3 linked regions of the Homo sapiens genome follow. Each later gene encodes a partner of the first gene's protein in a complex. Each region holds a gene or a part of one and is shown in the gene's direction. Other genes may lie near its edges.

Evidence for each region.
Region 2: the proteins of PXN (region 1) and SORBS1 are in contact, whole or in part, in a crystal structure (PDB 2O9V), measured with the Homo sapiens proteins. Residues at the interface, in NP_001074324.1 of Homo sapiens: Val45, Pro46, Pro47, Pro48, Val49, Pro50, Pro51, Pro52, Pro53, Ser54; in NP_001030126.2 of Homo sapiens: Phe876, Phe878, Val900, Asp901, Asn903, Trp904, Ile917, Pro919, Thr921, Tyr922.
Region 3: the proteins of PXN (region 1) and PARVB are in contact, whole or in part, in a crystal structure (PDB 4EDN), measured with the Homo sapiens proteins. Residues at the interface, in NP_001074324.1 of Homo sapiens: Asp3, Leu4, Leu7, Leu8, Asp10, Leu11, Glu12, Ser13; in NP_037459.2 of Homo sapiens: Ala241, Phe242, Thr244, Leu245, Ala249, Lys252, Val255, Val256, Ser259, Leu260, Tyr354, Phe357, Thr358, Lys361.

The regions. Positions count from the first base shown.
Region 1 is NC_000012.12:120,212,118-120,222,248, reverse strand, and holds part of PXN (paxillin), read left to right. Parts: exon of another isoform or gene 1-490; coding exon 491-626; exon of another isoform or gene 627-934; intron 935-1,323; exon of another isoform or gene 1,324-2,157; coding exon 2,158-3,042; intron 3,043-5,132; coding exon 5,133-5,408; intron 5,409-5,667; coding exon 5,668-5,976; coding exon of another isoform or gene 5,977-6,319; intron 6,320-6,587; coding exon 6,588-6,689; intron 6,690-6,831; coding exon of another isoform or gene 6,832-6,975; coding exon 6,976-7,146; intron 7,147-7,250; coding exon 7,251-7,424; intron 7,425-8,031; coding exon 8,032-8,113; intron 8,114-8,258; coding exon 8,259-8,407; intron 8,408-9,420; exon of another isoform or gene 9,421-9,614; coding exon of another isoform or gene 9,615-9,647; exon of another isoform or gene 9,648-9,668; coding exon 9,669-9,935; 3' UTR 9,936-10,131. UniProt on the Homo sapiens protein: Cytoskeletal protein involved in actin-membrane attachment at sites of cell adhesion to the extracellular matrix (focal adhesion). Recruits other proteins such as TRIM15 to focal adhesion.
Region 2 is NC_000010.11:95,556,556-95,566,525, reverse strand, and holds the start of SORBS1 (sorbin and SH3 domain-containing protein 1), read left to right. Parts: upstream 1-5,154; 5' UTR 5,155-5,206; intron 5,207-9,970. UniProt on the Homo sapiens protein: Plays a role in tyrosine phosphorylation of CBL by linking CBL to the insulin receptor. Required for insulin-stimulated glucose transport. Involved in formation of actin stress fibers and focal adhesions.
Region 3 is NC_000022.11:44,130,296-44,140,426, forward strand, and holds part of PARVB (beta-parvin), read left to right. Parts: intron 1-1,191; coding exon 1,192-1,332; intron 1,333-2,598; coding exon 2,599-2,714; intron 2,715-6,164; coding exon 6,165-6,223; intron 6,224-9,828; coding exon 9,829-9,848; intron 9,849-10,131. UniProt on the Homo sapiens protein: Adapter protein that plays a role in integrin signaling via ILK and in activation of the GTPases CDC42 and RAC1 by guanine exchange factors, such as ARHGEF6. Is involved in the reorganization of the actin cytoskeleton and formation of lamellipodia.

The DNA.
Region 1 (10,131 bases):
CAAGCCTTAGTTTTCCCATCTGTAAAATGGGACAAGAACTTATGGGATCACTGGGATAAGACCACCTACCTCAGTAAGGGTGAGAACCAGTAATCCATGTAAAGCGCTTGGAATGGTTTCTGGTGTGTAGTGCGTGGCACACATGGTGAGTGCCCAACACGCGAGCTCTTACCAGTGCCGTCGTGTTACTGCAGTAGCCTCACCTCCATGTCCAGTGTTGTGGAGGAAACACAGGGCGCTTGGGCTTGTTTCGCAGGCCAGCTTTCACTTGGGCTGGGGGCTAGAGGAGTCTTCCTGGCACTTCCTGGTGCCATTGAACTGCCCTTTCTTCTGACCCAGTGATGGGTCCCCAGGAGAGACAGGGAGCTGGTGGACCTCCCTGGGGTTGGGGATGGTGAGACCCCAGTGTCCGAGGTGAGAGGTCGATCTGATCCCCGGGAAGTGTGGGGCTGACTGTGGGCTCCCCACTGATGCTGTGCCCACCCTGCAGCCCTGCCATCACTGTGAACCAGGGCGAGATGAGCAGCCCGCAGCGCGTCACCTCCACCCAACAGCAGACACGCATCTCGGCCTCCTCTGCCACCAGGGAGCTGGACGAGCTGATGGCTTCGCTGTCGGATTTCAAGGTGCCCTGTGAACCCTCCATCTTCCCTGCCCTGCCGCCCCTCCCTCATCCTTCTCCTCCCTTACCTCAGTGTGGGTAGCTGGATCTTGGCATCTCAGTGTTTGGGTGCCTTGCCCCTGAGCCAGGGACACTGTCATGCCCTGGCCTTGCTGTGATGCCAGGAGATGGGGAGGGAGGGCCGGGTCAGCCTGCCTGAGGATTGCAGTAGCCAGTGAAGGCAGACAAGCTGGAGAAGTGCTCAGCTGGGACATTCCTTCCTCCCTGGGTGCTCCCAGCCTCTCAGGTCGAGGGGATCAGGAGGCTGGGACGCTGGGACAAAGAACCTTGTGTTGATGGCTGCTCTGGGTGGGGGAGGGCATTCTCTGCTGGGCCATGTGGGACTTGGGAGCCTGTGCCTGGGAGGTCATTTGCCCTGGAGCCCCATCTCCCACGCTAGCTGTCCTCAACACATCCTCTTTCTTTCTGCCTCTGATCCTGAATCCACAAGCCTCCCTTGCTACTCTTCTCCCATCCTTCCCTCTCGCCCTCCAGGGCCTCTGAGTTCCCACGAGCGTGTCTGTGGGAAACCATGGGGCCAGGCTTGCACGAGGTACCTGCCCTTCCCCTCCCCTGCTGGGCCTCCCCAGTCCTGCCAGGCCTGAGATGTTTAATTTAGAGGATTCAGTGTTTCCTTGGGGATTGATATTGACAGAACTCACCAGCAGCTGCTGACTTCATACTTCCACGTGGGTCAGCTGGAGACCTTTGGGGCATGACCTAGGGAATATGAGAGGGGAGTGAACGGTCCCTGCACCCTTGGCCCTGATGGTGTCTCCTAGCCTCCCTTCAGCTGAGGTTTCATGGTGGGAGACAGGAGTGTGGCTGGGGTGGAGGGTTGAGCCTGGCCCTGTGACCCTTGCGTGCTATAGTTCCAGCTCCAGGCCAGTGGTTCTGAGCAGCCATGGTCAGAAGCAAGTAAGTTGGATTCAGGGCCTGGCCTGAGGGAGCTGTGCCCCGGTGCTTTTAAGGCTGCCGTTTTCTCAGACAGCCTGTGTCCTGATGCCAGGAGAAGCAGCAGTGGTTTTAGTCAGATCCCTGGAGCAAGGATGTGGAAGACGTAGAGGACTTGGGGTGTAGGAAAGCTGGGATTGTCCGGAGGGACATGGCCGAGTTGGGCCAGTGTCCGAGGCGGGTTCAGCAGCCCCTGGGGCTGGCTCTCCCTCCATTTGTGCCTGGGGCTGTCTTCCGTAGCCACCTGGCTCCCCATTTGTCCACCTTACCGTGGTCTTTTCTTTCTCATACCCTCCCTGGGTGGCTCCACAGGCACGGCTTGGTGGCTGCTTTCTCTTGCTTGGGTTTGGTGAGGGCTAAGCACGCAAAGCCCAGGGAAGCTTTTTTGGGGTCTGGGTCTCCTTCAAGGGTCAGTCCTGTGCGTCAGCTTTGCAGCCACCTTGGTCAGCCCTAAGGCCGAGCCCACCGCCTGCAAGGTGCAGCCGTCCTCACTCCCCTCATCTCTCTCTCTCCTCTCCCCTCTGCATTTCTCTCTTCTCCAGACCAGCTCCTCCACTGTGGCTCTGAGTGCCCCGGGGCTGTCCAGCTCTGCTCCGTCCTCATACTGCTCCCTTCCTCCTTCTCCTCCTCCCATGCCATCTGTATTTCTGCCACCCACCACTATACCCTCCCCTCGAGGCCAGGGCCACACTCCGGAGTTCCCTTGTACTGAGCAGAGTGGACGAGGCCTTCTACCTCCTGTAGCCCCCAGCTGGCTTGATTTGGCTGGTCTTGGGGTGATGCCTGACACCTTCAACTCAAGGTCTCCCTCTGTGGAGGGTTCTCTGTGGGCAGTGGGCACAGAGAGTCAGGGTCGAGATTGGAGGCACCTGCCGACCATCACAAGTGAGCTCTCTGGGGCTCCCCGCTGCCACACTGTACCCTGTGCTGGGAGCACAGCTCTCCAAGAGCCTGGGGAGCCCCAGGGGCCACCAGCCAGCCCTTCGTGCCCAGAGGAGGCCTTGGCTGCCACATGGGAGCAGCCATGGGCTTCGGAGGTATTCGGGCCTGAGAGAATGCCCCCCTCTGGAGCTGCTCGAAGCTTCCAAGAAGTAACAGAGCCAGCTGTAGTGGCAGTGGACCGGCAGGCCATCTTCCCAGATACCTGGACTCTCACGGAGGAACATGGCCTACAGCAGGAGAGGCCAAGGCCAGAGCCAGGGAGGCTGGGAAGCAGCTCCCCTGCCTCAGTTACCACGGAGCAGCTAGGTGCAAAGATGACCGAGAGGGGAAGTGTGGCCAGGCCAACCCAGGGACCTGAAACCCCAAGGAGCCCAGAGGGCACCACGGAAGCTGCCACCCAGGACGGGAAGGAACAGCCAGAGCTTCCATGTGCCATGGCCATGGGCACACCCAGCACCACGGAGAGGATTTCCACCTCTGGCCAGGCAGGCACCAGCTCGCATGGCTGCTGGGCATGGCCATTGGCGGGTCTGAGTGTGGGCCGCTCCTCGCTAACTGCATGCAGCCTCCCACTCTGCGCATGTCTGCTTGGGCAGAAAATGCTGAGACACTGTGGCCGGACCTGACAGTCAGCACTTGGCAGTGGGCTCTGTGGACCCAGCATTTCTCATAGCGTCAACCCACCTCTTGCCTTGTTGAGGCTTTTTCCTTTCAGATGAGCTGTCCTTGACATTCTGATGTGGTGAAATGGTTAGCAGCATGGACTTTGGAACCAGATAGACCTAGATACAAACCACATGTCTAACACTTGCTACCTCTGTGACCTTGGGCAACCCCCTCCCTCAGCCTCAGTTTTCTCATCTGTAAAGTGGGGAGAATTTCCATCAAGATTGTCCGGAGACCTAAATGAGATAATTCCTGGAAAGTGTTTAGAACACAGCATGTGGTCCCTCAATAGGCCGTGGCTGACAGTACTTTTATTACTTGCTTTTTGCTTAAATTAAAACTTTATGCCGGGCCAGGTGTGGTGGCTCACGCCTGTAATCCCAGCACTTTGGGAGGCCGAGGCGGGCGGATCACCTGAGGTTGGGAGTTCGAGGCCAGCCTGACCAACATGGAGAAACCCCATCTCTACTAAAGATACAAAAAGATTAGCTGGGCATGGTGGCGCATGCCTGTAATCCCAGCTACTCAGGAGGCTGAGGCAGGAGAATCACTTGAACCCAGGACGCAGAGGTTGCGGTGAGCCAAGATCATACCATTGCACTCCAGCCTGGGCAACAAGAGTGAAACTTGGTCTCAAAAAACAAAAACAAAACAACAACAACAACAAAAAACTTTATGCCTCACCCTGGCACAGTAGCTTATACCTGTAATCCTAGCACTTTGGGAGGCTGAGGCAAGAGGATCGCTTGAGCCCAGGAGTTTGAGACCAGCCTAGGCAACACAGTGAAACCCTGTCTCTACAAAAAATTAAAGATTAGCTGGGCGTGGTTGCACATGCCTATAGTCCCAGCTGCTGGGGAGGCTAAAGCAGGAGGATGGCTTTAGCCCAGGAGTTTGAGGCTGCAGTGAGTTGTGATCGCACCACTGCATTCAGCCTGAGCAACAGATCAAGACACTGTCTCAAAAAAAAAAAAAAAAAAAAATCCCCCAAGCTTTATGCCTCTTTGGAAAACAAAACGAAACAACCAAAAACCCCCAAAACACTACCAACAAGTATAATAGCATAATATAATATTAGCATAATAATATAAATAAGAAAAAAAAAACTAGTTAAAAAAGTTCCTGGCTAGCTGAGCACGGTGGCTCACACCTGTATTCCCAGCACTTTGGGAGGCCGAGGCAGGCAGATCACGAGGTCAGGAGTTTGAGACCAGCCGAACCAACATGATGAAACCCCATCTCTACTAAAAAAAAAAACAAAAAACAACAACAACAAAAATTAGCCAGGCGTGGTGGTGCATGCCTTTAATCCCAGCTACTCAGGAGGCTGAGGCAGGAGAATCTCTTGAACCCAGGAGGCGGAGGTTGCAGTGAGACCAGATCGCGCCACTGCATTCCAGCCTGGGCGACAGAGCGAGACTCTGTCCCCCCCCAAAAAAAAGTTCCTGGAAGGAAACACTTTTTCTATTATAAATTAAAAAAAAGAAAAAAGAAAAAGCCGTATGCCTTGTCAAGGGCATGCACTTACATCCTCTGGAATAATTCTTGTGCAAACCCTGTGCGGTAAGCCAAGAAAATCTTGTGGTTCCATTTTAAGGAAGGGGAAGCTGAGGCCCATGGCAATTAAGTGTCTTGCCCAAGGTCAGTGGCCAACTTAGAGGTGAATGCTGGGTCAGAGGTCTCGCTCGCAGCCTGTGCTTCTGGAGCCAGTCCGATCTGCCCCCTCCCCTTGCCTCTACCCACCTCCACCGGTCCAATCTGCCCCCTCCCCGTGCCTCCACCCACCTCCGCTTGGTTCTTTGGTGGTTTTCTTTTGTGCTCCCTCTCCTGAGGCATCTGAGTGTGGCCTGAGCAGCGTTGTGCAAGCTGGGAGTGGGACGGTGACAGCCTCCCCTCCCCCTCCCCCTAGATCCGATCTGTGATCAGGAGGAGCTGGGAGTCTGGCCACGCACACCCCATGTCCCGGGAGCCCTCCCCTCGCCGCCGGCTGGACCCTGCCACCTTGAGCAGGACCCCATCCCAGGAACAGCTCATCGCGGAGCTGCAGGGGCGGCTGGGCATCCAGCCTGAGGCAGAGGAGCCGGCGGAGGCGGCGGGGCCCTCTGCCCAGGACTGGCTGACCGAGGGCGTCATCATCACTGTGCAGCCACGTGGGAAGCGGGCCGGGGGGCAGCTCGTAGAGAAGGTGGCGAGGAGATGCCCATGGCTGGGGCTGGGCCAGAGCCAAGCACCTGGGGTCCGGGTTCTTCCCTGGCCCCAGTGCTGGCCGGAGGGGAGATCTGGGGAGAGGGTGGGGGTTTCTTGCCTCCTGTGACTTTGGAAGACTGGCCCCACTCTTGGTGCAGAGTGGGAAGGCCCAGGGGGAGCCTGGGGAGGTCCCGCCACCCCTGTGGGCTGAGCTGGCGATTTCTTCCTCATCGCTCTCCCTCCTTTCTTCTCCCCAGGTTGTCTTCCCTCCTGGCTCTCCCATTCCCCTGAGAAGAACCATCTCTGTCCTGGCTTCTCCTTCTGTCCCTTTGCTCCAGCATCGCACAGACGCCGCGGCCAGCAGCTCTTCTCCCCTGCCCAGCCTGCTCGCCTCCTCCCCCCTGGGGCCCTCAGCTTATACCTGTGGTTCTTCTGGGGTCCAGAGTGCAGGGGAAGAGCCCCATGATGAGGGGGTGCAGGGCCCTGCCCTTCCCATTCCTGCACCCCACACCATGAGGTCCGTGGGCTGCCAGACTGATGAGGACCCGCTCTTCCCCCCGATGCAGGCAGGCCTTAAAGGAGCCCCTCCCTTTCTGTCCCCTGTCCTAATGCCTGAGCCATCCCCCACTCTGCACACACACACGTGCACACACACATACACAGATACCCTCCATCCCTCCATCTACAAGCCCCAGCACAGTAACCACAGTCCTGCCGTAAACCTTGACCCCGGTCTTCCCCCACTCAGAAGGTCCGCTGCCCTCTTGCTTTTCTGTGGGTCCACCCATGTCTGCTCCTTCCTCGACTGGTCCTCAGTACTGCCCCGGGCTCCCATCGAGGAAAGAAGCCACTCCAGAAGGGAGACCAGAAACCTGTCTCCTCCCTTCCAGCCCCCAGGCCCAGCGCCCGGTGAGGCCTCATCACTGAGCCCGGCCACCTCCCCTTGCCATTTCCTCTGCCTTTGGTCGACTCCCCTCCCTGTCCTTCTTCCTTTCTCCCTAGGCCTCTCTCTCAGGGCTCTTTTTCTCCAGATTTTTTCCCCCAATTTTGGTCCTGCCGGTGGGGGAGAAACCCTCAGATCTCATCCTAGATTCCCTTTTAGTCCAGTGACAAGGTCTTGTATTCTTTCTTAATTTTTAAAAAAGATTTCTTACCCTCATCTCTTCCCCTATCTAAGATCCAGGGCCTGGAGCAAAGAGCGGATGGGGAGCGGTGCTGGGCGGCCGGCTGGCCTCGGGACGGCGGGCGGAGCAGCCCCGGAGGGCAGGACGAGGGAGGGGTCAGTGCCAAGGCTGGGCTGGGTGTCCTGCGTGTCGTGCTCTCCCTGGGCTTGGCCATGCCTGCTGGGTGCCCTCAGCCTTTCCGACCCTGGTGGGCCCCTCCGACCACCAGGAGTCCTGCTGACGTCACTCCCACTTTAGGGCTCCTGGCCCCTGGAGGAGGTTGTACTTCTTGTCTCCATCAGCTCATCTGTCCAGGAGGGAGAAAAGTACCCCCATCCCTGTGCTGCCAGACACCGTACCCCGAGCCTCAGGAGTCCTGACCAGCCCCCTCCGTGTCCACAGTTCATGGCCCAGGGGAAGACAGGGAGCAGCTCACCCCCTGGGGGGCCCCCGAAGCCCGGGAGCCAGCTGGACAGCATGCTGGGGAGCCTGCAGTCTGACCTGAACAAGCTGGGGGTCGCCACAGTCGCCAAAGGAGTCTGCGGGGCCTGCAAGAAGCCCATCGCCGGGCAGGTGATGAGGGGGAGTGGGCAGGGGTGTGGCCAGTGGACTCCTGCAGGGGTGGGGGTGCTCCGGGGCTGGCCTTGGCCCTGGACCGCATTCCATCTCCTCCTCAGGTTGTGACCGCCATGGGGAAGACGTGGCACCCCGAGCACTTCGTCTGCACCCACTGCCAGGAGGAGATCGGATCCCGGAACTTCTTCGAGCGGGATGGACAGCCCTACTGTGAAAAGGACTACCACAACCTCTTCTCCCCGCGCTGCTACTACTGCAACGGCCCCATCCTGGATGTGAGTTCCTCATCCGGCACCGCGCCCGCTTCCGCTCATTCCAGCTTCACCGCAGCCCTCTGAGGATGCAGGGGGTGCCGTGGGAGGCTCAGAGAGGTCACATGCCCGAGGCTCACAGGGCTAGGGAACAGTGGGGCCGGATTCACAGCCACACCTGAACCACAGCCTGTCCCGATGTGCATCGGGCAGCCCCACCTCCCTTCACCTCCCATCTCGATTCCTTTCTGTGGAGACTCCCAGGACTCAGGAGCCCTGAGGAGATAAATGGAGTTGGATGCCAGCGGCCTCACTCTCCCTCTCTGTGAACTTAGGAAATGCCTGGCCTCTCTGAGCCTATGTTTCTTCACTTATAAAATGGGAGTCATAGAACTTGTGCCCTCTACTTGGGGTGAGGAGTAGAGGAGAGGGTATGTGTCTGGCTTGTCCCATCCTGAGTAACTCTGAATTCTTAGAGGCATTCACAGCACAATTAGGAGAGACCCCCATCTTGGGAGTGTTTTGCTCTGTCTATGGCTATGAGCTGCGGGTGGAAGGACGGCCTTGCTGGGCGTCTCAGTTGTGAGATCTGCCCAGAGCTCAGCCTTGATCCCACATTTTGCTTTCACAGAAAGTGGTGACAGCCCTTGACCGGACGTGGCACCCTGAACACTTCTTCTGTGCACAGTGTGGAGCCTTCTTTGGTCCCGAAGGTACGGGCTGGACCGGCGGACTGACCCACCGCCTCTTAGGAGGGCCGGGGAGGTGGGGGTGGGAGACGCTGCTGAGGTTGGAGTCAGAGTGGCTCCACTTCTGGAAGCCGGAATGAACTGTGCCTCCAAAACCCCCGCTCCCCAGGGTTCCACGAGAAGGACGGCAAGGCCTACTGTCGCAAGGACTACTTCGACATGTTCGCACCCAAGTGTGGCGGCTGCGCCCGGGCCATCCTGGAGAACTATATCTCAGCCCTCAACACGCTGTGGCATCCTGAGTGCTTTGTGTGCCGGGTAAGGAGCCCCTGACCACATCTGGAGGGGCGAGGAGCAGGCAGTGGGGAGAGAGGGGTCTTCCTCATTGTGCTGTCTGGATCCAACTCAGAGGCCTCATTTGGGGTTATTAATTGGGGGAGCAGGCAGGGGATCTCCTTCCTCCAGTCCAGTAGGTCCTGGGCCAGGGTTTGTACTGAGGCTGGGACAAACCAGGAGCAAGGTAGACATGTCCCCCAGTCCAGCCCTGTGCAGCGGCCCTGGGCCATTCCTATTTGGGAGGAGAGTGTGTGAGAACTAAATGAGATAATGCAAGTATTTAGCAGACTCAACAGAAATGGGCAGTGGTTTCCAAAACCACTGCATTCTGGGGGCCCCACAGGGGTTATTAATGATTCAACAAGGGCTCTCTGACCAAATGAGTTTGGGAAACACTGTTCCCTGCAGGACTTCTCAGAGCCTTTTCTTTTCTTTTCTTTTTTTGAGACGGAGTCTCACTCTGTTGCCCAGACTGGTGTGCAGTGGCACGATCTTGGCTGACTGCAACCTCTGCCTGCTGAGTTCCAGTGATTCTCCCGCCTCAGCCTCCCAAGTAGCTGAGATTACAGGCACACGCCCCCATGCCTGGCTAATTTTTTGTATTTTCAGTAGAGACGGGGTTTCACCATGTTGGCCAAGCTGGTCTTGAACTCCTGACCTCAGGTGATCCGCCTCCCTTGGCCTCCCAAAGTGCTGGGATTACAAGTGTGAGCCACCTCACCCGGCCCCTCTCAGAGCCTTTTCTACCTATATGTGATGTGAATCTCCAATGAGAATCTAGGAGGCAGAGTTTGACTACAGACCAGTGTCACACCTGTGTTTCTGGGAACACTGTTACAGCCACCTGGCTAAGTGCTCAGGAGTCAGACCTGTGTATGAATCCAGGCTGTGACCTCAGTAGCTGCATGACCCTGGGCAAGTTACTTCACCTGTGTGCTTCAGTTGCCTCCCCTGTTGGGAGAACTAAATAATCCCAGCCCTGTGGGAGGCCGAGGTGGGAGGATTGCAGGAGGCCACATTTGACCAGCATGGGCAATATAGTGAGACCCCCATCTCTACAAAAAAAATTTATTTAATAAAATAAAAATGAAAAATGAGCGTTTAGGACAACACGGCACATGGGAAACGCCTAGCAAGTAGGAGTCACTCCGAGCGTGCCGACTATGCCCACCTCGGCCCCATCACACAGGGTGCAGCTCTAGCCCGAGGGGCAGCTCCCTGAGCCCCTCTCTCCGCCTGGCAGGAATGCTTCACGCCATTCGTGAACGGCAGCTTCTTCGAGCACGACGGGCAGCCCTACTGTGAGGTGCACTACCACGAGCGGCGCGGCTCGCTGTGTTCTGGCTGCCAGAAGCCCATCACCGGCCGCTGCATCACCGCCATGGCCAAGAAGTTCCACCCCGAGCACTTCGTCTGTGCCTTCTGCCTCAAGCAGCTCAACAAGGGCACCTTCAAGGAGCAGAACGACAAGCCTTACTGTCAGAACTGCTTCCTCAAGCTCTTCTGCTAGGTGCCCTGCCCCTGTCTCTGCCCCCCTTCCCCAGCCAGCATCCCCAACTGCGACTGTGACCTAGAGACTTCACCCGGGGGTGAAGGGGTAAACCCGACTGAAACTGGAACCCTTGTCCTCCGCTGGTGCGGGATGGACAGAGGGCCGTGAGGGGTCCCCCTGCTTGTCTTCACCCCTGCCAGAGCCTCTGGGCCCC
Region 2 (9,970 bases), on another chromosome or scaffold:
ACAGAGGCCCTGTGACCAGAGTCCTGGGGTTACTCATACTCATCCTATCCCTGCTTCCCAAGCACAGCAATCCCTCCTACTCCTCTGGGTTTCTACCTGGCCCCATAGACTTCTCTTGATCAACCTCCACCATTTCACCAAACTTCCCTAAAGCATTGTCCACCAGCATTGACCTCTAAGGAATGTGGAATTCTTGGCTCGGGCGTTCCATCATCTTCAAATCAGTTCCGTGCCCTGAGGCACGCGTTTGTAGATTTACTTTTTTCTCAGTAATTAATCAGTAAGAAACAAGACAATCAGTTATTAAGGAGTTTTGCTCTTTCCACTACTTGCTTCGCTTTCTGTAAGATGCTACAGAAGGCATTAGACAAAAATCATCAAGGGGTGTTTGGTGATACAGCAGCAAAACTCTTTGATTCATAACTCTCTTTCTCTCATTTGGTTTTCTTCTTTTCTCCTGGCATTCTCCAGCACGGCATCTCTGAAAATGACTATGGTCAATATTTCGGGTAACTGGGAAAACAACTTACCAAAACCAACGTGTTCTAAGAAGTTGTCTTTCTCAACACTGCCTCCTAGTAATGTTAAAATAATATTCACTTATTGATGCTTATGTGTGTCAGGCAGTGTGTAGGCACTATCCATGCACGATCTCATCTTCAGCTTGCAAGTAAACCTATGGAGGGTTGTGTTTTCTCCAGGTTACAGATGAGAGAAGTCTGCACACTAGGCACTGGAGCTAGGATTCTGCCAGGTGTCTCTGGAGCCCGCAGCCTTAACTGTTATGCTACTGCCAGCTCCAGGGCCTCTAGTTTATTTCCCTCTCTCCCAATCTGTGTGGCTCTGAAGATGAAGTAAAGGCTGACGACTCTGGGCTGTCCTCTGAAAAATCCTGCTCCCTCCTTTCCTAATTCCTCACACTTATGACCTGCTTGGGGATGCGTCCCACAGCATGTTTATGATCCTGGTTTGTGTGCATGACTCTCCGCCTGATATTTTAAATTCTCTCCAACAGCGGAAGGACTGCTGGGAATAATCTGATACACATGAAGAGAAAACGAGGAGTTACTAATAAGATTAAATTAAACTTAAGCACATTTTAAACAGCGTGTAAAACACAGGACTAAGCACTGTTTGAGATGAGCAGACACAAGGCACGACCTCATGGAATTTACAATCTGCTGGGGAGAGGAAATGAGGGATAAGACTACACACAAATATACAGGAGTTTATGCCAAATATGGCAAGTTCCATGAGAAAGGAAGAAATGAAGCACTGTAGGGCTGGAAGGCAGGAGTCCTCCCGTTTCCCTGTGGACCCAGGTTTAAGAGAAACGGTGGAGACTGAGACTGGAGAACAGGAAGTTTTACTGTTTTACTCAAGGGTCAGTCACTGATGCACTGACAAGGCCTCAAGGTTCACCCTCCCCAGGACAAGTTACATAATTTACAGGGCTCAGTTCAAAAATTAAAGGCAGGGCCCTTTGTTCAAAAATGAAGAATTTCAAGATGGTGACAGCAGAGCATGTAATCAAGTGTGGGGCCCTCCTCAGCACAGGTTGCATCCACACAGGGCTGGCCCTGCCCAAACGAACCTCCCTGGGCCTCTGATTCCCTAGGGCTCACCTTTGGGAAGTAGGGAGCAAGTATCTCTCTCACCACCTTGTAGCCAGCACCTAGCTCAGGGCCTGCTGCCCAGATGAATCTATGAATGACTGGAGATAGGATGAACTGACACGATTACACCTGATGATTTCTTGGGTTGCTTTCAGCGTTAAAACATTGAAGGACTGGCCAGGTGTGGTGGCTCACGCCTGTAATCCCAGCACTTGGGGAGGCTGAGGGGGGCAGATCGCTTGAGTCCAGGAGTTTGAGACCAGCCTGGCAAAATGGTGAAACTCTGTCTCTACCAAAAATACACAAAATTAGCTGGCCACAGTGGCCCATGTCTGTAGTCCCAGCTACTTGGGAGGGTGAGGCAGGAGGATCCCTTGAGCCCAGAAGATCAAGGCTGCAGTGAGCCGAGATTGCGCCATTGCATTCCAGCCTGGGTGACAGGAATGAGTGAAACCCTGTTTCAAAAACAGAAACAAAAACAAAAACCCAACCCATCGAAAGACCGTGACTTTCAACATTTCTTGGAGGAGACACCTGAGATGAGTCCTGAAGGACAGTAGGATTTTTCTTTTCTTTTCTTTTTTTGAGATGGAGTCTCGCTCTGTCGCCAGGCTGGAGTGCAGTGGTGTGGTCTTGGCTCACTGCAACCTCCACCTCCTGGGTTCAAGCGATTCTCCTGCCTCAGCCTCCCGAGTAGCTGAGATTACAGGTGCGTGCCACCACGCCTGGCTAATTTTTTGTATTTTTAGTAGAGATGGGGTTTCACCATGTTGGCCAGGCTGGTCTCGAACTCCTGACCTCGTGATCCGCCTGCCTCGGCCTCCCAAAGTGCTGGGATTACTGGCGTGAGCCACTGCGCCTGGCCACCAGTAGGATTTTTCTTTCTGTTTTTTCCACTTTCCTTCTTTCTTGACTTTCCACTATTTTACCATTTCTTTCATAAATCCTAATGGCAATGTTATGCCTTACAGTGAGACATGCAACAGTGACACAGACTGGAAACAGCAGAGAGGTTCAATATTTGAGGGATGACCTGAAGCCTTAGGCCTCCCTTAAGATTCCTTGAGATAGTGTAGATGAAATCTTCATTGATAGAGTCTGGTTTTTCATCTTAAAATTATTTTATTTTCACTGGACAAGTTGGTAGATGTTTATGAAGAAAAAAATCAGAAGACTATGGATGAGCAAAAATAATTACTTGCAATCCCATAAGAATAGTTCTAATGGGATTGCAGTATAAAACTAGTTTTCTACCTATTTTTCCATTCAATAATCTGAGCATCTTTTTTTTTTTTCTTTTTTTTGAGATGGAGTCTTATTCTGTTGCCCAGGCTGTAGTGCAGTGGCACGATCTTGGCTCACTGCAACCTCCGCCTCCCAGGCTCAGGCAATTCTCCTGCCTCAGCCTCCCACAGGTGCACGCCACCATGCCCAGCTAATTTTGGATTCTTTAGTAGAGATGGGGTTTCACCATGTTTCCCAGGCTGGTCTCAAACTCCTGAGCTCAGGTGATCCACCGCTGCCCACCTTGGCCTCCTAGAGTGCTGGGATTACAGGCGTGAGCCACCACTCCCAGCCTATTATGAGCATCTTTATGTGTCAATAAACCTCTTCATTTTTTGTAGCTATTAATATATGATATTCTGTCATATGGTTGTACTATTATTAACCAATGCACTCAAATTGGATATTTGGATTGTTTTGATTTTTTTTTTTTTTGGCTATTCTAAAATGGTGTTGCCCTGAATTTGCTGGGTAAGTAACTAGTCTCTCTACCCTTTGTTATACACCTCTGTGGATAACCTCAGGATAACGACACTATTCCCACCTGGGGTCGTGTGGTGGATGTGAGTTAACGCATGTAAAGCTCTTAGCACAAGTATAGTACGGTGCATAGCAGCCTAGACGTGCTCAATAAATACTAGCTGTTTTATTACTTTATAGCCCAGAGAGAGCTGTCTTACACAGATTGTGGAGTAAATAAATAGGAGAGCCGGGGAAGTGTTCTTTGAAAAGCTGCAGGATGAGGTGCAGATAGGGGAAGGCCGTGGGCTGGGGGCTCCCTAGGTTGAGTAGTTCCCCAGTGTTTTCTCATTTATAGAGTAAGCTTCCAGATGGCTAGGACTCTTCTTTTTTTTTTTAATACACAGCAGAGGACACCAGGTGGTCACCAAAGACTTGTCACCGTTCCCTGACATCTAAGAATCTTTGCTGATGAGTTTCCGATCAGTCTGTGCAGTTATCAAGGCCAGTCTTTACCCTGCCACCCACAGCCTGTTCACTGAGAATGTGCTCTGGCTGAAGATGCTTGCAAGGGCAGCTGACAAAAATCAGTTGTGCTCAGCCCAAAGGGCGAGTGTCTTATCTTCAGGGATGTGGGAAGCTGGGCATGGAGGGAGCAAGTTCCAGACCAGTACTTGCTGGCTCTGCGACCTTGGGCCAGCAGATTCCCCACTCTGATCCCTGTCTCTGTTTCCTTTTCTGTAACTCTGAGGGGGACTAGAGGAGGTCAGGAGAATGGCATAGCACAGTGGTTAGCTCTGAACCCCATCTAACACGGTGCCTTCCCCCCACTTGCAATGACCTTGTTGCATTGTATGCACTCTACTTTTCACATTGTAGAGGATCTTATTTATTTACTTGTCTCCACTAAAATGGAAGCTTCCTAAGGGAAAAGGCCTTGCCTGTCTTGTTCTCTGCAGTTAACACTGGGGTCCAGCACTGCCACAGAGCCTCTAAATATATGTGTGTTGCATGAGTGAAATCTCAGAGCCTGGGTTCAAATCCTGGTTGCACCACTTGCTGTGTGACCTCGGACAAGCCACTTAAACTACACCTCAGTTTTCCTGCATAAAAATAGTAATTATTTTCAGTTTTCTCACTAGAAAAATATGGATTAGTAATCGTTCCTCTCTTATCAGGCTAAGAGGATCAAATGAGGAAATATCCGGGAAGCATTAAGCACACTGGCTGGTACAGAGCACACGAATGACAACAGCAAACGTTTATGTAGCACGACGGCCAGGAACTGATCAAAATGCATCACCTATGTTAACTATGTTAATCTTCACTAGATTTTACGAAGTCGGACTATTATGCCATTTTACAGATGGGTAAACTGAGGCCCAGGAGTTAAATAACTTATCACTGTTATTTTACGTCTAAGGTTCCTTCCAAGCTCCCCGTGGGCGACCCTTCCGAAGGACCAGAAGGCGCGCCAGGCCAGCGTCCGGCCCGGCCAGGACGGAAAGGGTTACTAGGCCCGCGCGCCCGTTACCGGCGGAGGCCGGCGGGCTCACAATGCCAGGAGCCGGGCGCCGGACACTTCTTCGCCTCCCATCCGCGCACACGCCCCTTCCTGTCACGGCTGGGCCCGGCCCCGCCCCCGGCACCGCCCGCTGGCCGGGCGCTGCCAGAGTGGACGGTTCCAGAGGCATGCTAATGAGGGGGCGGGCACCGCAGCCCATTGGTTGTCCGCGGAGTGTCGGTGAAGTCAGCGCTGAGTCCCAGAAAAACAGAGCGGGGCCAGCTGCAGCGTGTAGTGCGAGTGGGGCGGACGCGCGCAGCCCGCCCGCCCGGCGACCAGCAAGGTAAGCCCGCGCTCGCCCGCCCGGCCGCGCTTGCCCGCTCGGCGGCGGCAGCGCCGGGGGTGTGCGCGGCTCGGCCCCCGCGGGCGGCGCCTTTGTTCCGCGCTCGGAGGAGGCGCATTTAAAGGGCCAGCTGTTGGAGGGACTTGGGGGACCCCCTCCCCCAGAGCATCCCCCCATGGGCACAGGGAAAGCGGTGGTCCCTCGCGGCCGAACCGTCCATCCTGCCTGCTCGGCGAATCCCCAGTCTTTCAAGGAAAGTTCCCCAGGGTGCGGAGGATCTGGGGGCTTCCAGGGTTGGGGGTTTTTAAATTTCCTTTTTTGGTGGGTGTGGGGTAGTACGATCATGGCCTCTGCTAGGAGAGAATGTCCGCCCGTCTCAGGGTGGCTGCAATTTGGGTGGGTGGAGGAGACATCAAAGCCCGAATGGGTTTGTGCTGTAAAGTGAAACTACCGAGGAGGGGCACCTCTGCAGCAGCCAGAGGAAGGCGGAGGGAGCGAGCGGCGGGATGGAGGCATCTCAGGTGTGTTCATTCATCAGCATCCCCTGGAGAGGGCGGCGGGAGGGGCGCAAGGACGACGCGGTTGGCCGGACCCGCCTGAATGAACGGGGACTAGTATGCGCCGGGGACACGGCGCCTGCCCGTGCCGCCCGTGCCCCTTCTTCTCCCCGAGTGGCTGACAGCATCTTGCTAGGCAGCTCATCACCGACATGGACAGCAAGCAACTCCTTTCTCCGAATTCCCCGGGCATCCCCTGCTACCACCTCGCTGCTTTCCGATGTGGCTTCCTTGATACGTGGTAGCGCCATTCAAGATAGAGGGGAAAGAGGCTTGAAGTCATTATGTTTCCTTCATGGGGGAATGTGCTGTCGAATTCTGCATCCCCATGCATCCGCTGTCGTAAGATGGCTTTGAAATTCACCAGTGCATGCTTTCTCCAGGCAGACAAGAATTTATTACGCTATTACATTGCTACGTAAAAGCAGAAGGGATCCCACTGAGCATGGCTCGTTTTGTTCAGTCCTCGGTTTTTCCCAGCATGTTCTGGGCGAGCCTTTGGATTTTTGTTTTAAACACTGAGCGTTGGGATGCCCCTGTTGTCACAGGGCCGACCTGCTGAAATTGCTGGAATTGGTTTCATCGTCAATAGGAGGGAGGTTCATCTAGAGACATCATGGAACCTATCTGGCGTGTCAGGCCTCTGACTCCATCTCTCCCCTCAACACCCCCCCCCCCGCCCAGCCCCCCGCGCCCTTTTTTCCTCTTAAGTGGAGGCGGGGGATGGATTGGCTGTCTTCACTCTCCTTGTGTTTTGAGCTCCTCTGCTTAGATTCAATTCTGTGGTTTTGGTTGGAAAGGTATCTTGGTGGTGATCGAAGAGAGGAGGGTTGGATTAAAAGTGGGGTGGACACAGAGGGGTCAGCAGCATCAATGACAGAAGACAGATGATGGACATATCTACAGCCTTCAGACACCGATGAGGCAGATGGCTGTCTACAGAGTGAGGGGCGTGTGTTTGGGCTGTGAGGGGGAGGGGTGGAGGAGGAGGATGCCTCCAGCAGTTTTCTGCCCCGCCCTCTGGATGCTGCCTTAAATAGCCCCTTGCCAACCAAGCTCTGATGTCTCTTTCTTGGCCTGAGGGGAAAGAAGGGAAGGGTTGGTCTGTTGGCACCTTTGCCCAAGGCACTGTTGGAGCAGATGGTTAGGAAAGGGTTAGTTCTCCAGGGGTTGCAGAGAGCACATTTCTCAGCTGGAGGGCCCTGAGACCACTCCTTTGGCGACTTCCCTGCAGGGAATTAGCAACTGAAATGAACTGCTGTCTACCCTGTGGGGTAAAGAGTTGGGAGGGTATTGTCATCTTGTGGACGATACCCGCCTTGTTGGCCTTTTCCTTCTCCTACCTGCTTTCATTTGTTGTAGTTGGAGAGTTTCTGTATACTTTTCGGAAGAGATTGGGCATATTGGGGAGTGGGTAGGAGTTATGGGAAAGGATGAGCAAATTCTTCCTGGCAGAACAAAGCACTGTTCAGCTGTTCCTCTCTTTCCCCTTCTCTAAAATAAGAGTTCAATACAGATAGCAGAGTCTAGGGTTTTCTTTGTAAACAATGAAAGGGCAGGGCCAGGAAAGAAAGTTTTTATTGTGCAGCATTGATAATGATCAGGTCATCCTAACTTATCTCCAGACCCTTCCCTGGATGTGGAGATAGATTTGCTGTAGAGGGCACTCTATGGTAATTTAGGATTTGACCTGTCTCTAGGAGAAAGGCATGGATGGTCTCAAAAAGCTTTGGTGGAGAAGCTCTGGACCAGAGGCAGGACAGCTAGCTTTGGTCCTGGCCACCAATCTTTGGGCTTTGGGCTAGTGGCTTCTGCTCTCTGGGCCTGTGTCCTTGCTGGTGAAGTGGAGGATGATAGGGCAGAAGGTCTTCCAGGGTTCCTGACAACTCCACTGTTCTTAGAGTCACAGTTTGTGATGGCATTTTCAGGTTCTTTCCTGTTTGCTAAATTGATAATAAATTCAAAGTATTGCACAATGGCATAGAAGAAGCATTCTAGGATGCAGGCTTCTGTTGGATTCACATCTACCTTTTCCTTGATTAGTGTGATTTGTGAGGTTTTACTGTAAGTATGTAAACAATTCAGAGCTAGAACGGTCCAGAGTGAGAGGCACAGACCCCAGAGTGAGTGGTTGTGGGAGATGAGGGTGGGATGATAGATTGCTGAGGAAAGGGAGTTTCTGTAATTTGTTCTCTTTCCCTGTGGATGTTTAACTTGCTGGTTTATTCATGGTTACACAGGTGAACGTTTACCTATCTAGAAGATGAGAGTTATAAAAGACCTCTGTGATTGCCATGTTCCTCCCCCTTCCCCGCCAAACTGAGGAATTTGAGGGGTTGGGAGGTTTGGCCATTTTTCCAAGGTTGCACAGCTAGCAAGATGTGGAGCTGGGGTGGGAACTCGGGGGGATAGATTGTAGATCTTGTTTCCAGATGTATCTGGGTTTTTTTGTTTTTTGGTGGTGGTGGTTGTTTTGAGACAGGGTCTCACCTGTCACCCAGGCTGGAGTGCAGTGGCACAATCATGGCTCACTGCAGCCTCGACCTCCTGGGCCCAGGCAGTCCTCCTACCTCAGCCTCCCGAGTAGCTGGGACCACAGGCACGCACTACCACACCCAGCTAATTTTTGTACTTTTTGTAGAGACAGAGTTTTGCGGTGTTGCCCAGGCTGGTCTCAAACTCCTGGACTCAAGCGATCCGCCTGCATTGGCCTTCCAGCATGCTGGGGTTATAGGCTTGAGCCACGGTGCCCGGCCTATATGTATCTGTTAAGCCCCCTCTTCCTCTGAGAGAAATGATTCTAAGATGGAATAGCGAAACATGAGGAGGAAATAGGAGCACAAGAAGAGAGAGATTGGAGAAACAGACGAGAAAGTAGGAGGCTGGGGACAGATTATGTGGGGAAGGGAAAAACACAGAAACCAAGCTTGGAGGAGAAAAGGATGGAGCTTGAAAGGGGGAGGCTCTATTGTCTCTGAAACAGCTGAGCTCTTCTGCAGCCCTTGGGGTGAAGTGAGGGGAGGTTTGGTAGCCTAGGATGGGGGGTGGGGGGGTGGACTGAGAGTTCAACCTCAGCCTGAGACTGTCTTGGAATCTCCTTGGGATTGCTCCTGTTGACCCTCAGATTGCAAAGTGTCATGGAGGCTGCTTAGTTTCAGGACCAACTGAGGCCTTTAGATCCACGGGAGCATGCAGAATGTGGACATGTGGGAAGTCAGGTGTGCGGGTGGTGATGCTGGCTGATGCTGAGGTGGGACTCAGTTCTGCTGAAGTCCCGGTTTTTTTGTAAATGCAAAACTCAGAACACTTTTCCATGGATTTCGTTTCAGTGCAAGCAGCATTTTCTCCTTGGATTTTCATCGGTGCTTTGAATGTTTTATGAGATAGTGTTTCGAATACTCCCTTTTCAGAGGAGATACTTGGAGATGAATGATTTACTGAATTGTAGCTCATTTGGGGGAGCTTCTGGCTTGTGACCTAAGCTAAGCCTCAGAATGTTTCAATGAGCAATTAAAGAGCTGTGAACAGTGGTTGACCAGAGCACTAACCATTCAAAGGCAAGGATAAAAGGTGATAATAGTTCAAGGTCTGGAGCTACAGCCAACAGCTGGCCATGAACAATGTAACTGACTTTGGCTAACTCTTCAAGCCCTAGAAAGTGTCTCTGTGGGTCCTTTGGTGGCTCCCCCTTTTTGTGTGCGGTTAGGCATGTGGACCCGTCCCTGAATCTTGCTGTCTCCCATTCTTCTTTTGCTACATCTCCCTCCACTATCCATTTCTTTTTCTTACCTCTTTCTCCTTGCCCTCCTCCCTCATTCTTTCTTTATTATCAACAATATATCTTTGTAGTTTCTTTTAATCTATTGCCATTAAAATTTCATGTTCTCTGTTCTTCATTTCAAATCAGTCGAGGGCCAGGCAAGGTAGCTCATGCCTGTTATCCGAGCACTTTGGGAGGCTGAAGCAGGTGGATCACCTGACGTCAGGAGTTCAAGACCAGCCTGGTCAACATGGTGAAACCCCGTCTCTACTAAAAATACAAAAATTTAGCCGGGTGTGGTGGCAGGCACCTGTAGTCCCAGCTACTCGGGAAGCTGAGGCAGGAGAATGGCATGAACCTGGGAGGCGGAGCTTGCAGTGAGCCAAGATCGCGCCACTGCACCCCAGCCTGGGCGACATAGCAAGACTCCGTCTCAAAAAAAAAAAA
Region 3 (10,131 bases), on another chromosome or scaffold:
TCAGTAAACACTGGAGTCTTAGAATCGAAGACTAGCAGGGAAACTGGGGGTCCTTCCTGCTGTGTGGCCCTGCAGCGGGCGTGGGGTGGGGCGCTGGTGGCCGGCACCTGCCAGTACCTACTGCTAACAAAAGGGAAATTGAAGGAGGTGCAGGCTGGGCTGGAGCTCAGTCTCAGTAATTGAATCTTGATGAAATGTGACAGTTCTTGTCTGTGCTCCTCCGGATTGTTTCCTGTTCATTCTTGGTAATAAAATCATCGCCAGTTCTGTGAATATCTAATCTAACTTCCTATTGTGGCATTAGAATGTTTAAGAAACAAGAATGGGAGCCTCAGGTGTGTGGGGAGGCAGAGGCAGCTTTTAAGACCTTTTTTAAAATTATCTTTATCAGTCCTCTCCCTTTTGGGACCCACAGGGACAGTCTTCTCACCTCCTGACTCCCACTTTCATTCTTCCCAGGTAACCTCCTTGCCTCTCAACTACATCTTATTATGTTTTTTCCATTTTGTATGCATAGAATGTTCCCGAGTATAACACCCACAGTTTTATCCTTAACTATTCTTCCCTTTTCAATCTGGCGTCATTCTCTAAGGAAGATTAGTGACCTGGAAGCTCAGCGTTCATGGTTCAACATCTCAAGACGCCCCCATGGCCACATGGTAACCTGCCCCGCTTCGGGGACCTCCTTGAGGCTGGGGTCTTGGTGGTTTTGAGTTCCTCCAGTATATCTCTCTCCCCTTCCTCCCTCCCTCCCTCCCTCCCTCCCTCCCTCTCTCTCTCTCTTTTTTTCTTTCTTCTCTCTCTCTCTCCTTCCTTCCTTCCTTCCTTTTTCTTTCTTTCTCTCTCTCTCTCTCTCTCTTTCTGAGGCAGGGTCTCACTCAGGTTGCCCAGGCTTGGGTGCAATGGCATGATCTTGGCTTACTGCAACCTCCACCTCCCGGGTTCAAGCACTTCTCCTGCCTCAGCCTCCCGAGTAGCTGGGATTACATGTGTGCGCCACCACGCCTGGCTAATTTTTATATTTTTAGTAGAGACGGGATTTCACCATATTTGCCAGGCTGGTCTCGAACTCCTGGCCTGAAGTGATTCACCCACCTCGGCCTCTCAAACTGCTGGGATTACAGGCATGAGCCACTGCGCCTGGCCCTTCCAGCTTTTTCTGACCCTCTTCTCTTGTGCTTCTCATTGCAGAAAAACTGGCAGGGTGCAAGCTGAATGTGGCTGAGGTGACACAGTCCGAAATAGGGCAGAAACAGAAGCTGCAGACGGTGCTGGAAGCAGTACATGACCTGCTGCGGCCCCGAGGCTGGGCGCTCCGGTGGAGCGTGGACTGTGAGTTCCACGCCACAGGGGGAGGGACTGTCTGGAGGGAGCCCGTCCTCTCGACATTCGTCATCCACATTTGTCATCCACATTCATCATCATCCCATCTGGCCTTGCATCTTAAAATTGGGTTCATCTCCCTGCTCTGTAAGAGGTAGAACATTGCAGGGGAGAAGAACAGGAGAAGGGTTAGGGAGATCCTAGAAAAGGGACCTGGTCAGGCCACAATTCTCCATCCTCCCCATGCTGCAGAGGAGAGAGGCAATGTTTATGGATGGGTGGATCAGAGGGACTTTGAGAGAGAGAAGCAGCCTTGGGGGGTTCTTGTTGGGACTCAACCCCAAATACTGGTGGCAGCAACACCTAGTGGGCTGTTTGTCTATGACCCTGGCATTATGAGATGTGACATCACGGTATTTTCAGCCAAGACATGAACCCGGCAGGTGAAAGACTAAACCAGGAGAAGCTGGAAAGTTCTCCTCGGTCCTGCCCACTCCTTCCCCACCTCCCTCCCCTGGAAGCAGGGCCATGAGGGTGTGGCTTCAGGGCTCTCTGTGCTGGGCCAGAGGTCTCCGTGCTTTGGTGAGCTGGGCTCTCAGTGGTAGGCAGGAGACCCTGGAGCCTGGCCTTGCACCCGGTTTCTTGGTATCGAGACCTTGGGCAGACCCAGGCTGTCTCGTGGGTGGCTGGGTCCGTGGGTGGGGAATCGGGTGCCTTGTAAACTGTAAAACCCTGCAGGAGAAGTGGTGATGTTGACCAAACCTGAGTCCGCATGCTGAGGAAGAGAGAGGACAGACTCAGGCAAGGCAGGGGCTAATGTCTAATGTCCCCAGAGTGGCCTCTGCTCTTGGCAGCCTACCCTTGTTGGGATGGTTCATTGCGGAGAGGGAGCCCTTTTTTAGTGCCAGAGATAATAACGCACATCCTTGTGATGGGTAAGTGGCCGTGACCTGCTTTCCATGCTCTTTTCCCTTCTGTGCTAATTTTACTATCCTGTTCCTTTCCCTCATCACTGCCCAATTTATTGCTTTTAAAAACATTGTGCTTCTAAAAGTGGTTGCACAAGTCACCTTAGGCCAACAGGAAAGGAGACAGTGAAGCTAGAAGTAAATTCACCAGGTTGCTCATCAGCTCTCTTGATTTGTCCACACTTCGCTCCATCCTTGTCTCGCTGGGGTCTCATTTAGATGCTGTGTCTCTGTTGCCTTCTGCACGTGGGCTCAGGTTCCTGTGTAACCTGATCTAAAGCGTCTCCCTTCCTCCTTCCTCCTGCAGCAATTCACGGGAAGAACCTGGTGGCCATCCTCCACCTGCTGGTCTCTCTGGCCATGCACTTCAGGGCCCCCATCCGCCTTCCTGAGCATGTAACGGTGCAGGTGGTGGTCGTGCGGGTGAGTATAACCGAGTGGTCGGCCTGCCTGTAACTCCGCCAGAGAGGCAACATCTTCCTCCTGCAGTTTTCCTGCCCTCCCCCTCCTTTTTTCCCCCCAGGAGGCTACCTTCTATTTTTCCCTTTTGACAAAATGTGTGTCTCACCCTGGCTCCGAGATAAATGATTGGAACGGGAACAATGGCATTGATTTGATGAGAGGCAGAAGCAGAGGCATGAGGGTGTTGAGGTTTAATTTTCCACATTTTTGAAAAGAACATTCATTTCTCTCCAAAGCCAACTGGTTGGAATTCAATCCCCTTGAATGTGCTTATTACTCATTGGAGGAGGTTGGCCCCGCGGGATGAAACAGACACCCAAATTAAAGCCGCTTTGCATTCGTTGGGGATTATTCATCATGCCCCATCATCTCTTTTTTTGGGTTCATTTCTCTTGATTCACTTGGAGAAATGGAACCAGAACCCAGGTCCTTCTAACAGAGGGTGAAGTAGAGTTACCTTTCTCTTGCTATTTCCCTTACATTTATTTTTTATTTTATTTTATGTTTTGTGAAAGGGTTTCACTCTGTTGCCCAGGCTGGAGTACCATGGTGCAGTCATGGCTCACTGCAGCCTCAACCTCTTGGGCTCAAGCGGTCCTCCCGCCTCAGCCTCCCAGGTAGCTAGGACTACAGGCACATGCCACCGTGCCTGGCTAATTTCAAATTTTTGTAGAGACAAGGTCTCGCTATGTTGCCCAAGCTGGTCTCGAAGTCCTGGGCTCAAGCGATCCTCCCATCTCAGCCTCCCAAAATGCTGTGATTATAGGTGGGAGCTGCCATGCCTGGCCTTATTTCCCTTACATTTAAGTGGACAGTCGCTGCCTAGGGTTCGTGTGTGCAGTTTCCCTCAGTAAATGTGCAATGAGCGCCTACTATTCTCTAAGCACTCAGCATAGGCTGCCGAGCCACTAAAGGAGGAACACATGCCTGGCGTCTGTGGGGGTGACCACTGCGGCCAGAGTTGAGGTCACGCTCGGAACCTTGGATGCCTCTGTGTTTATTTTACTCGAGACATCCGGCTCCACTTTCCTCTGGTTTTTAAACTTCTCAGTCCCGTGGTCTCTGTGGTCGGGGAGGACCTGGCTGTCACTGTGTTTTCCGAACCCATTCTGGCCCCTCTGTTACCCTGGGAGCTCAGTCTTGACCGGACGGGAATGCTCCTCTCTGGCATCCGGCAAGGGCCACCTGCCATGTGTCCATGTTTCCTTCCTAAGGAGGATGTTTGTGGCTGGTGGTGGTGACTCGGGACCTGGGGGGCCATTCCTATGGCCCCGTGTCTTGGCCACTGGTTCACAGGCAGCCGGCCTGAAAAGGCTTCCCTAGGACACATTGGGATGTGGTTCCCAAGCCTACCTACGTCAGCTCGGGGCCCCAGGAGCCCTGTGCAGGCTCAGAAACTGGAGTATTTCCTTTCAGGCTTGCACTTGGGTCCAAGATAATCTTTGCGGTTTGCAGAAAGTTTGAACCAGGCAAGCACTTGCTGGTGCTTCCTGCCATAACGGGTTAGAGGAGTGTTGTTTGGCCACGACCAAAGCAGAATGAAACGGGAGCAGGGGGTCCTGTGAACCGGGCGCAGTTACTCCCCAGACCTTAGAGCCGCCTTCTGTCTTCTCTGCAGCCCCCTGGCCTCTGAGCTTGCTCAGGGGACCCCTTATCTAACCCCAGATGGAATGGTTGGTGTAAGGGATGTGGCATTTCCAGGGTGGAAGGAAGGAAGGAAAGGGCCTTATTTACTGCCTGGCCACGTGGCTTTGGGCTGATCACTTGCTTTTGCTGAGCTGCAATGCTTTTCCCCATAAAACCAAGATTTTACTACAAACCTGTAAAACATCCAGCTTCATGTCTACAATCCTAGACCTGGGCCCAGCACCTGGTGGGTGCCTCAGGCATGTTTGATCCTTGACTAGGTGAACACAATGTCTGGACCTTCCTTGGCAGGCACTCCTGAGAATCAGGATAAATGTCACCCACACTGTTGTTCAATAACAAGCACCAACCCTGAGTATTCCATGGAGGTCAAACTCAGGAAAGGGATGGAAGCCCAGATCTTGGTGGTGTCCACTGTGGGCTGGCCCAGCGGGAAATGAGTTCCCAGTCCCTTGAGGGGTTCAGTGGTGGTTGGATTAGCCACCCAGGCTCCATCTGGAGCTCCTGTGACAGGCGGGCTGCCACCCCTACCATCACCACTGCCATGCCCCCCTCACTACCATCATTACTTTTTTTTTTTTGAGATGGAGTCTCACTGTGTCACCCAGGCTGGAGTGCAGTGGCACAATCTCAGCTCACTGCAACCTCTGCCTCCTGGGTTCAACTGATTCTCCTGCCTCAGCCTCCCAAGTAGCTGAGATTACAGGCACATGCCACCACGCCCAGCTAATTTTTGTATTTTTAGCAGAGACCGGGTTTCACCATGTTGGCCAGAATGGTCTCAATCTCTTGATCTCATGATCTGCCTGCCTTGGCCTCCCAAAGTGCTGGGATTACAGCTGTGAGCCACTGTGCCCGGCCATCATTGCTTTTCTATACCTGCCACGCTCTGGGAGAAGTGTGACATATACTGTGTCAGTTTCCTAGGGCAGCCATAACAAAGTACCACAAACCAGGTGGCTTAAAACAGCAGACATTTATTCTCTCGCAATTATGGAGGCCAGAAGTCTGAAATCAAGATGTTGTCAGGGTAGGATGTCCTCCCTCATGTCTCCTCCTCTAGGGGAGGGGTCTTCCTGCCTCCTCCAGCTTCTGGTGGTGGCTGTCAGTCCTTGGTGTTCTTGGCTTGTGGCCACATCTCTCCAGTCTCTGCCTCTGTCATCACATGGCCTCCTCCCTCTGTCTGTTTCTGTGTCTGTTTCCTCTTCTAATAAGGAGGTGAGCCATATTGGATTAAGGAGGGGCTCACCATAATCCATGATGACCTCATCTGAGCTAGTATCTGCAAAGACCCTTATTTCCAAATGAGATCATGTTCTGAAGTTTGTGGTAGATATGAACTTTGGGGGACCCTCTTCAGTCCCGTGCACACACATGATTGCAGGGGATGTTCCCTGTTATTTATGTTCCTTCCAATTGCATGCCTCACCTCTCCTGGCTGCAAAGCATAGAGGATCCCTTTGGGGAATCCTGACCTGGGGTGTTTCTCCTGAGACCCACACAAATGCCAACTCTCAAGGCCACGTGGAGACCAGAGGGTGGGGAGGAGGATAGGGACAGGTTGTGGTCGCTGAAAGGCACCCTGCCCAGGGTCCCCTGCTGTGTACTCACCCAGGCCTGGCATGCGTGTTCAACACCACCCCTCCTTCTCCTGTTGCTCTTTTCTAAGATGATCTCCGGCCCCGCAGCTTCGTCTGCCCTGTCAGTGCATCTTTCCTCAACTCTCCACTGCCTGATTTTGTATGTTTATTTTGGGGTTTTCAGAAACGGGAAGGCCTGCTGCATTCCAGCCACATCTCGGAGGAGCTGACCACAACTACAGAGTAAGTGGACCCCTGTCTTGCCCTTCCAGGCCCTGCTGCCCCGAGTGAGTGGGACCCCAGGCTGCCACTTCAGCCAGGGACACCAGCGCCCATGGGGCTGCTCCCGCTCCACACCCCTTCTCTGTAGCATGTGATTCTCATGCTGGTTCCCACCCCAGCTCTCCTCCCTCTGCACACTTTCTTCAGAGTTTTTAACATTAGAACTGAGTTACCTTCCACAGACTTTGAATTTTTTCATTCCTATCTTAAAAGGTGAGCTGTAAGAACATTGCAAAGTGGGGCAGGCAGAGAGAGTTCAGGATGGTTAGAGAGAACCATTGTCTCAGTTCATTTATCCATCTACATTAGCCCCATCAGAGGTGGGAGCTACATCTTTAAACCAGAACTTTCCTTTGACAGACACTACTAAGCCATCTGTTATCTCCTAGAGAAAGCCAGAGGGCAGGTGTTCAGAAGTCTAAAAGGCTTCAAATCTATTGAAAATAGCAAATCAAACAGTATCTGTGGTATGTGGTTTTAAGGACTCCTTGTGATAACCTGCTAAGAATCTTTAGAATTCACTGCATTTGTGCCTCTTGACTAAACCTGTTTCAGATGAAACAGAACATTTAAAAATTGATTGTCTCAGCTAATCCATCAGCTAAGTTCACAGAGTGATTAATTACTGTGTTGTGAATTCATGGATGGTATTTCAAAAATTGGAGCTGACACAGGAAACCACTCGTGGCTTGCAAGCTCTCAGGGAAGATGATGGGACAGTGGAGTGCAGGCTGATGCATGTGCAGAGGCCCATGAAGAGGCCTCCCAGTCTGCCCCAGGCCCACGAAGGGAACAGGGAGAGCTGGAAAAGGGGAGGATGAGAATGTGGTTCTTTGCCCAGCACAGTGGGCCTTTGGCAGCAGCTCTGCCTATTCAGCAGTAGGAGAAGGGCTGCTCGTGGGGAACTGGGATTGGGCTGGTGTCTTAGTTGTTTATTGTTGTGTAACAAATCACCCCCAAAGTCAAGTGGCTTAAAACAACATCTGTTTCATTTGCTGCTCACAATTCTGTGGGTCAGCAATTTAGGCTGGGCTCAGCTGGGCGGTTGTTCAGCCAGTCTCGCCTGGGGTTGCTCATATGATGCAGACATCTGAAGGCTGGATGGAGGCTGGGGAGGCTGAGATGGGCTCCCCCTACCTCTGGTGGTTGGTGTTGGCCTCCCCTGGGTCTCTTTCCTCCTCACAGTGCTGGGCATCTTCCCAGGGTGCTCTCAGGGTCCTGAGAGAGTGAGAATGCAGCTGCAGTCCCCTTGAGGCCTTGTCTTGGACATCCATACCTATGTCCTCAATTCTGTGAGTCAAAGTGAGTCACAGGTCATCCTGGATCAAGGTGCAGGAAACAGACTCTGCCTCCTTGTGCAGGAATGGCCTGTGCACATTGTTGGGTGGTGGGCATGCTGTGATAGGAGTTCCCCTCTAGGTGAGGGGGTCCCATATGAGGACAGCAAGGAGGAGCTGGGCCCCCTGCCATAAAACTAGAATGGTCCAGAGACAGAGAATGAGCAAGTGGGTGGGAGAATTGTCTCAGCTATTCATCAGCAGTAAGTGGCCCCAAGGACCTGCTGCATGCCAGCCTCCTTGCTGGATCAACAGAGACACTGAGAGGTGGGCTGAGTGCAGTTCTTTTCCTCCAGGGCGACCCATCCTGCTGATGAGAAAGGATGCATCCACAGACATGTACAGTCTAACACAGGGGCTTGTGGGAAGTGCCTCGGGGCCCTAAGGGAATTTCCAGGAGGAGGGGAGCACCCCAAAGTCAGGGAAGGGGAGATTTCAGTGAAAGCCACCTCAATCAGATATCAGATGGCCCTGAGCAGTGAGGAAGGGAGTTGGGATTTTCTAGCCTGAGTCAGTGTCCCTCTGCCAGCCAGGGTCAGGGTAAAGGAGAGGCTGGGTCACCTCTCCAGGATGATGCCCCAGGTAGGTTCTCCTCAGGGCTGGTCATCCCATCCTTGTCTCCTGTTCCTTCCCCTCCCCGTGGCTGCGGAGGCTCTGACGGAACATTTGAATCATTGGATGTCTGCTGAAAACCAGCGGCCCAAAGATCCACATTCAGTTTCCTAAGGCAGCATTGCCACCTCCTATCCAGTCTCAGTGTTCCCCTTTCTCTTTCAAGAGGTGGCTATGAGGTCACCCCTTCCAGGAAGCCCTCCTGTCTGCCAAGCAGGAGTGCTTGGCTTCCTGTTAGTTCCCTTAGCCTCTGGACACATGTGGCCAACATTGAAATATTGGCTTATGAGGTCTGTCACTCCCAGGCATCCTGAGGGCAGGGCCACATAGTGTTTATCTCCAGGGGATGTTAATTTCTGTATCTGCACAGCCTGCACATAGTAGGTACTCAAGTAAGTGCTTGTTAAATAAGATGGAGCCAAAGGACTTGAGCCTAGAGGGATTTGGGGACAAAGTAAAGACTTCCTTGCCTCTCAGGAAGGCAGTGCATGGAAAGGATCTGTGCACTCACTCACTGGGAATCTTTGAGGAGAAGCTGCTCACCACTCCCGTCTCCCCCATTGCTTCCGCTGCCGCCTGCCTGAGATCAGGGCCTGGCCTCGTGGTTCTCCAGGATCCTTTAGTTCCACAAGTCCTGCAAGTACATTGTGTTTACTCCTGGAAACATGAGTAACCTGCAACCTTGTGTGTGTGTTTGTTTGTTTATTTATTTATTTGAGACAGGGTCTTGCTCTGTTGCCCAGGCTGGAGTACAGTGGTGCGATCCCAGCTCAGTGCAGTCTTGACCTCCCAGGCTCTAGCGATCCTCCCACCTCAGCACCTGAGTAGCTGGGACTAGAGCGCACGCCATGACACCCAGCTAATTTTGTATTTTTCTTAGAGGAGGTTTTGCCACTTTGGCCAGGCTCGTCTCCAGCCTTGCATTTTTTTATTGTTTTGTTTGTTTGTTTGTTTGTTTTTTGAGACAGAGTTTCACTCTTGTTGCCCAGGCTGGAGTGCAATGGTGCAATCTCTGCTCACTGCAACCTCCACCTCCTGGGTTCAAGTGATTCTCCTGACTCAGCCTCCCAAGTAGCTGGGATTACAGGTGCCTGCCACCATGCCCGGCTAATTTTTGCATTTTTAGCAGAGATGGGGTTTCGCCATTTTGGCCAGGCTGGTCTCGAACTCCTGACCTCAAGTGATTGACCCGATTCTGCCCCTCAAAGTGCTGGGATTACAGGCATGAGCCCCTGTGCCCGGCCCAGCCTGTGTTTTGAGCGTTCCACGGCTGCTGGAAGACCTGTTGTCTGCTGAAATCTTCATATTAACCACTCTTCTGATTTAAGTACCTCCCCTCCAAACAACATTACCAGGGTGGTTAATGTGCAAATAGAGATGGTGATTTGCTGCTGACCTTGTGCAAACATTAATAATTCACACAAGCACCTCTCGTTTATAATTAGAGCAGGCTGGAACACAGCACCATGTGACTTGCGTTCTTATCAGTAGGCCTTTACCTGGGCAGCGAGGGCCCAGCTTTCTGGCTGGCTCTGTCCCTCATCCTCCATTGTGCTGCTTGTGAAACTGTGTTCTGAGTGACCCATCTCATGGCTCTCTCTGTGTTCTTGTTTGCAGGATGATGATGGGCCGGTTCGGTAAGTAACCCCAGGGAAAGTGGGGAGATGGAGGCATGTTAGGGCTCCCCCAGGAAGCTCCCAGAGAGTGTACATGGTTATCTGGAGGGAGTGGGAAACTAGATGGGTCTCACTGCCCCCATAGTTCTGGAATCCTAGAGAAAGTGCACAGCCCACCCCCACCTTTCTGTATAATGGGCTTGTTTCTCAGAGCTGAGAGTGGCTGGGTTGTGCTAGGAGGAGTGGGGTGGAAGGCTGGGTGACCAGCTAGGGGAGCAGGAGGGGCCTGGGATGTAACACTGGC